Homo sapiens: one gene and its partner. The main gene of each other region encodes a partner of the protein of the gene in region 2 in a complex. Each region holds a gene or a part of one and is shown on either strand. Other genes may lie near its edges.

Region 1 (3,748 bases), about 72 Mb from region 2:
ATTGATTCCACCAAGAATCCATGTTACTAAAATAGAGTAACAGAGAATCCACTATTTACTGAGCTTAAAGTTTGCTTTCATCACCTTAACGTTTAAAAATTGATTTCACACGGCCAGGTGCAGTGACTCACGTCTGTAATCCCAGCACTTTAGGAGGCCGAGGCGGGCAGATTGCTTGAGGCCAGGAGTTCGAGACCAGTCTGGCCCTGGCCAACATGGCGAAACCCCGTCTCAACAAAAAATACAAAAATTAGCCGGGCGTGGTGGCGCATGCCTTTAGTCCCAGCTACTAGGGAAGCTGAGGTGGCAGGACGGCTTGAACCTGGGAGGCGGAGGCTGCAGGGAGCCAAGATCGCCACTGCACTATCCAGGCTGGGCGATAGAAGCAGACCTTGTCCCCACCCTCCCCACTTTCCCCCTAGAAAACTGATTTCACAGATAAATTTGATTAGGGTACCCACTACATTTCACTAGGAATTCTAATGAGGAGAATCCAGGTGATCACATCTAAGTCACACAAAATTAAACATTTTTTAGTACAAATCAAGGTTAAATATTGGCAATTAGTATAAAGTAAATCCCTGTAATCCCCCCCCACCCGTTTTTTAGTTTGTTTTGCTTTCTTTAAAATAAACCCAGTGAGTATCAATCTGTCATCCTAAATTCTGACTGGGATCAGAGGCATCAACTAGTTCTTGTCCCATCTATCTGTGGCTAACTAAAATAAACTAAAAGTCTAATAGTTTAAATAGTAAACTAAGAAGTGTAACTAATTCAAAATATTCTAGTTCACACACAGAAGCAAAAACAATTACACAATATACAAGATATTGATCAAATGAAGTGAAGCTTTGACCCAATCAAAACTTCCTAACTCCACTTGTATCCATGTCGATCTCCTTTTATATCCGTTCAGTTCCACTGTCCTAAGTAGCCAATGTCTGAATAATTTTCAGCATTACCAGTCGAGCCCCTCCAAAAGTGGGTTTGCCATTTGCGAATTTAGCTTTGGCCCTCACTGCAGAGCGTGAAAACCAAAGGAAGAGGATGGTTTGAAGAGCAATTTCTTTTCACGAATAAACAACTAGTCCCATGAGTAAGGGAGTCAATTTGGAGTGCCAGGTCTAAAGGAAGAAGAAACTGTATTGCCTCCTTGTACATTTTGGGAATTTAGGGCCTGGACAAACGATAGCTAGTGAACTGAACGGGCAGGATAGTCAATCAGAGTAGAAGCAGCAGTTACAGGTCTAAAAAGCGTGCCAGCTCTACCCCACAGGCCCCCGAAAACCCTTCTACTCCGCCCAGCCTCCACCTCGCGCTTCTCACCTGCCTGTCGCCCGGTCTCGCTCGGGCTTCGCGAAGGGGCTGCGGATCCTACCCTCGTCACTGGAGTGGCCCGGACCGACGCCTGCACGTGAGGAGCCCGGGGTCCCAGGCCCGCGACTGGAGCAGGGGTGCTGATGCCGGCAGCTGTCCGCGGGTCAGGCCCCGCGGCCCCGGGGCTCAGGAAGTAGAAGGGGTTGTAATAGCCCAGCTGCGGGGGCGGCGGCGCCGCGGCCTGGGGGACTGCAGCGCCGCCCGAAGGGAAGCTCTGCGGGGAGGGCTGGGGGCTGCAGTAGGCTGGGAAGGCGGCCAGGCCGCTGTGCCAGGTGAGGTAGCCGCAGTAGGACTGCCACAGCCACTCGTGCACTTGCCGGGAGTACTCGCGGGCGCTCAGCCGAGCTGGTCTCTCTCGTGGCGCCGCGGCTTCGGGCGCCTCGCAGCCCGCCTGCTCCTGCAGCTCTGCACCGGAGCCGGAGGCCGCCTCCCCGCGCTTCCTGAGCTCGCGCGGCGGCTCCAATTTGTCGGCTGCGGCGGCAGCCGCGAGGCCCGGGGCTGTGGGCCGGCCCGGGGCCTGGGGTTCGGCCTGGGGGTCGTCGCGGGGGCATGGGACGGCGGTGGTAGGAGGGCCTCTCAGGGAAGGGACGGGCTCGTGGTCCCCTCCGCCATCGTCCTGCCCGGGAGGGTGGCCTCGGGCTTCCTCGGGCCCCTCGGCCATCGTCGCCTCAGCAGCACCCTCTGGGATACCTGTCACTGCTCCGTTTCCCTCCCCCAATGGCCCCTCCCCAACAGCCCCGTCACCACCGCAGCAACCGCAGGCGTCAACAATCCCCCGCCGGAAGCGGAAGCCCCGCCCCTCAGGAGCAACGCCCGCCGCCAGGCGGAGCTGGGAAGGGAGGGCGGGGAGGTGCGTCTGCAGTCCCGGGTTCGGGCCCTAGTAGTCGGTGGCTGGTCGGTGACTGGGACCAGACCGTCGCCTCCTCCCTTTTACAGCTTTAAGTCTGTGACCCGAGGCCTCTCTGTATATTCCCGTGGGGTTGGGCCTAGTTGTCCTGGGAGAAACTAGATGGATGAGGAGTATTTCCGAGACAGGTCCCAGGGCCAGCGCAGCCTTTTCTGTTGCAGAACCGCGACTGTTGTTTTGGGATCCAGGCCGGAGGGTTTGTTGCTTGTGTTCATTCCAGTTAACCATTAGTACTCGAGAAGGTGGTACAGAACGCATCTATCCCCTTAGAAGAAAAGAAATTAAAAGCCAAACTAAACTGGGATATATATTAATATAGGAAACTACCACTGAGACATAGGAAAGTGTATTAAAATATAACTAGTGAGGTGCTATGTATAATTCAGAGGAAGGGGAAATTATGCATGGGCCAGACTACTAACAAAAGGCTCCAAAGCCTGGGATACGCTGAGGGCCTTTCCATAACAGAAAATGAAAAGGAACCTAAATTTGAGACTAGATTTGAGGAAAGGCACAGTTGCGCTGGAGTAGAAAGCGTCTGTCTACCGCAGTGGAAAGTAAGTTTTCGTAAATGCAGACTAGCTCCAGGGTGAGGACAGAATCTAGCTTTTAAATCAGTATAATCTCTCTTCTTTTACATTTGAAAATCTCTGCAGCGATATGTTATTGTATCCCCAGCACCATACAAAGGACATACAAGGGCCAAATACTGTGGGAATATTTATTAATGATATTAATGATGATGCTGTCCGGGCCAAAGGAAAACTTCCGCTTCACCTTCTGAAGTTTCGCTGAAAGTCACTGACAGGAGGCAGTTAATAGGAGAAAAGACATAGACATTGATTTGACCATCGTTTTATGTGACACGGGAGCCTTCAGAATGAAGACCCAAAGATAACAAGGGAAATCGTGTATTTGTATGCTTAGGTTCAACAAAGCATGGACAGCCGTATAAAAAAATGACTGGACAAGGCCGGGCGCGGTGGCTCACGCCTGTAATCTCAGCACTTTGGGAGGCTGAGGCGGGCGGATCACAAGGTCAGGAGATCGAGACCATCCTGGCTAACACAGTGAAACCCCGTCTCTACTAAAAATACTAAAAATTAGCCAGGCGTGGTGGCGGGCGCCTGTAGTCCCAGCTACTCAGGAGGCTGAGGCAGGAGAATGGCGTGAACCCGGGAGGCGGAGCTTGCAGTGAGCCGAGATTGCGTCACCGCACTCCAGCCTGGGCGACAGAGCGAGACTCCGTCTCAAAAAAAATGACTGGACAAAAAACACTCTGATGCAAACAGGCAAGAAACCCAGCAAGGCCTATCTGGATTCTCCTTGGCCTGTCTGCAGCATTCATTCCTTCTGGGTATGGAACAGGACCCTCTGGAATGGGGGCTGTGGCCTACAACAGTTAAACAAGGTAGGTCAGATAATTTTTCTTTTCCTTCTTTTTTTTTTTTTGACAGAGTTTTG
Region 2 (3,748 bases):
TAGACTCCAAAAATACTTGTTGGATGCTGAATAATAAAAGCTGTTTTTAGAAGGTGTTTTACAGCACCTTTTGAAACTGAGTTGCACAAGTGAAATCTAAATAATTAACATGTAAAGTTTTACTGGCCAGCGAAGTGGCTCACGCCTGTAATCCTAGCACTCTGGGAGACTGAGGCAGGAGGATCACTTGAGGCCAGGAGTTCAAGGCCAGCTTGAGCAACTTAGTGAGACACTGTCACCAAAAAAAGAAAAGAAAGAAAATTAGCCAGGAGTGGTGGCATGTGCCTCTAGTCCTACCTACTTGGGAGGCTAAGACAGGAAGATTACTTGAGCCCAGGAGTTCAAGGCCACAGTGAACTATGACTGCATTGCTGCATGCCAGCCTGGGTGACAGTGTGAGACCCTGTCCCCAAGAAAAGAAAAAAAAAGAGGAGAGGAGGGGAGGAGAGGGGGGGAGGGGGGAGGAGAGGGGATGGGGGAGGAGAGAGGGGAGGGGAGGGGGGAAGGGAGGGAAGTGGGGAGGGGAGGGGGGAAGGGATGGGGAGGGAAGAGGGGTGGGGAGGGGAAGGGGGAAGGAGAGGGGGGAAGGAGAGGGGAGGGGGAAGGGGAGGAGGGAAGGAGTGGGGGAGGGGAGGGGAGGGGAGAGGATTTACTAATGTCCTACCCTGTGCCTAGTATGGAGCTAGGCTCAGTTAAGAATCTAAAAGAGGCCAGGCATGGTGACTCATGTCTGTAATCCCAGCACTTGGGAGGCTAAGGTAGGAAGGTCACTTGAGGCCAGGAGTTTGAGACCAGCCTGGGCAACAAAGTGAAACCCTGTCTCTACAAAAAATAAAAATAAAAAAAATTTAGCCAAGCGTGGTATGTGTGACTATAGTCTCAGCTACTCAGGAGGCTGACGTGGGAGGATCATTTGAGTGTGGGACATCAAGGCTGCAGTGAGCTGTGATCATGCTATTGGACTCCAGCCTGGGTGACAGAGTGAGACCCTATCTCAAGTTAAAAAAAAAAAAAGAATCTAAAAGAGAAGACATTCAAGAGGCCAGGACGAAACCTAAGGACTCAGTATCACCTAACTAGATGTTAGTGAGGAAAGACATGGGGAGAAAGGCTCTGAGAGAGGTGTGATTTTCAGAGGAGTGATGAATGAAAGGATAAATAAATACTTATTGAATGAAAGTTGGAGAAGACTTTTCAAAAAAGAAGTGAACCAGAAAGAGTGTAATGTTGAAAATCAGGGCTGATTCTCAGCCAGTGTGGTTAGTATGACCATACCATTGGCTAACTATTGAAATATACCTGTATTTGTTGGTAAAGAGCTGCTGCTAACTACTGTCCTCCACCACCACCAGTCTCCCCATGCACCAGCCCCTCCCTCCCCGAAGACCACTTAGCTCTCCCCATGATCTAGCAACTAAATAAAATGACTCCTGACACAGTAGAGTGTCTCCAGGACCCTGCTCCAACTCTACTGCCAGCATTAGCAGTTCTCTATATCAGCTAATACTTATTAAGCAGCTTCTATATGTCAGGTACTTTATGGTGTGATTACAATTACCAAACACAACATTCATTTTGACTGATGAGAAAACAATTTTAAAGACATTGTGTAACCCACCCATAGTGTAATGGAAAGAGCACCAGTCAGAATCTAGGCCTATTGGCTCTTAAACAAATGTTCTCTCTGTTATACAAAATAGAGGTAAAAGCAGCATTAATTTGGTATTTATTTATTTATTTATTTATTTATTTATGTTTTTTTTTTTTGAGATGGAGTCTCGCTCTGTCGCCCAGGCTGGACTGCGGACTGCAGTGGCGCAATCTCGGCTCACTGCAAGCTCCGCTTCCCGGGTTCACGCCATTCTCCTGCCTCAGCCTCCCGAGTAGCTGGGACTACAGGCGCCCGCCACCGCGCCCGGCTAATTTTTTGTATTTTTAGTAGAGACGGGGTTTCACCTTGTTAGCCAGGATGGTCTCGATCTCCTGACCTCATGATCCACCCGCCTCGGCCTCCCAAAGTGCTGGGATTACAGGCGTGAGCCACCGCGCCCGGCCTAATTTGGTATTTATTGATGAATACCTGTTGTTTCACCATTTGCTACTCCGTGTGGGTAAGATGTTTAACTGAGAACAGGATGAAGGCTGAGGAGAAGCAGTGAGATTTCTCAAACTGGTCTCTGAGATTGGTGTAGTTTCATGTTTCAACAGGGCACTATGTGTGGAAGGTGGACTGCAGCAGGCCAAACTACGGAAAGGATGCCTTGGAGGTTACCAAAGAGAAAAATAGGCACAGCTTAAAGTGATAACAGATACAGGGAATGGTTTTTGTGTTTGTTTTTGCTTTTTTCAAGGTTAGGGGATAATTAAACATAGTTAAAGGAAATGAGAGAAGAAAAGCTTAACAATTAAAGAGGAATTAGATCAATAGTTTTCCTTGGCCAGGTATGATGGTGACACCTGTCATCCTAGCACTTTGGGAGGCTGAGATGGGAGGACTGCCTGAGGCCAGTAGTTCAAGACCAATGAGACCATGTCTCTACCAAAAAACTTTTTAATTAGCTGGGTGCAGTGGCATGTGCCTATAGTCCCAGCTACTCAGGAGGCTGAGGTGGGAGGATAGCTTGAGCCCAGGAGTTTGAGGCTACAGTGAGCTATGATCGTGCTACTGCGCTCCAGCCTGGGCAACAGAGAAAGACCGTGTCTCTTAAAAAAAAAAAAAAGTTTTCCTTCACATGAAGAAAAGATGTGTAAATTTGGAGAGAAAGAGAGAAAATCTGAGATATAAACAGTAATAATAATGCTAACACTTATTGAGTATTCTGTGTCAGGCTCTATTCTAAGAGCTATACAATAAGATCTTGATACTTTTCATCCCACATAAACTCAATGAGGTAGGTATCATTATTCTCATTGTAAAGATGAGAAAACTGAGGAAGAGAGTGTAAGAAAGGTGGGAAGTTAAAGGAGACAATATGATTACAAGGTACAATAACATTAGCTACCCTTTAGTGAGTACTTATGAAGTGCCAGATGTGTATGCCCAGCACTTGGCATATATTAATTCATTGAATCCTAACAACCATGATATGACATTTATGCATTCAGTTGTATCATTTTTACTTCTCAGATGCATCAGCTTCCTAGGAATTATTTTGGAGGAAAAAAATTGTAGTCCCAGGGCCTGGACCCCAAAAGCAAAATTATACTGTTCTATTATTTCTTAATGAAAATGATTTGCTTACTATATTTTGCAGCTACCAGGAAGAGTGAAGCCACAAGCACTCTAAAAATCCAAAATTCTTACCGTTAGGAGAATAATGCTTGGTGGTTTCATGGGATACTCTGGTGGCAGTACTATCCGCCCGTGATAAACTCCTCCATCAAAATCGGAGTCTGGGGGCCCTCTAACCGTGAAGTGCCATTCAAAAAGGTTATCCTGAACAAAAACAATAATCCACAAGGAATTAATAATATTGAAAAGTTTGATCATTTTATCTGAATATTAGAAATATTACCAAGCAAGAAAAATTAAATGCTTTATATTATTGCTAGTATAGTTTCTAATGCATGAGATGTCTCGAGACTATAAGTGATAAATTAAATTTATAAGTAAAAGCTATTTAATCTAGCTTTCATGTTCCATTGAGCTAAAATATTTTATAATAAACACATTAAAAATTTCTGAGTGTTGTTATATATTCATAAGTAACTTACAGGTTTAAATTGGAAATTAATCCTTGAAAGAATA

What was found. The genes of interacting proteins can lie anywhere in the genome.
Region 1: UBE2J1 (region 2) and FAM8A1 share a complex: the UniProt entries of both Homo sapiens proteins name them as parts of the HRD1 complex.

What each region holds. Positions count from the first base shown.
Region 1 is NC_000006.12:17,598,700-17,602,447, reverse strand, and holds the start of FAM8A1 (protein FAM8A1), read right to left. Parts: upstream 2,147-3,748; 5' UTR 2,039-2,146; coding exon 1,327-2,038; intron 1-1,326. UniProt on the Homo sapiens protein: Plays a role in the assembly of the HRD1 complex, a complex involved in the ubiquitin-proteasome-dependent process of ER-associated degradation (ERAD).
Region 2 is NC_000006.12:89,339,020-89,342,767, forward strand, and holds part of UBE2J1 (ubiquitin-conjugating enzyme E2 J1), read right to left. Parts: intron 3,437-3,748; coding exon 3,305-3,436; intron 1-3,304. UniProt on the Homo sapiens protein: Catalyzes the covalent attachment of ubiquitin to other proteins. Functions in the selective degradation of misfolded membrane proteins from the endoplasmic reticulum (ERAD) and is essential for cells to recover from ER stress.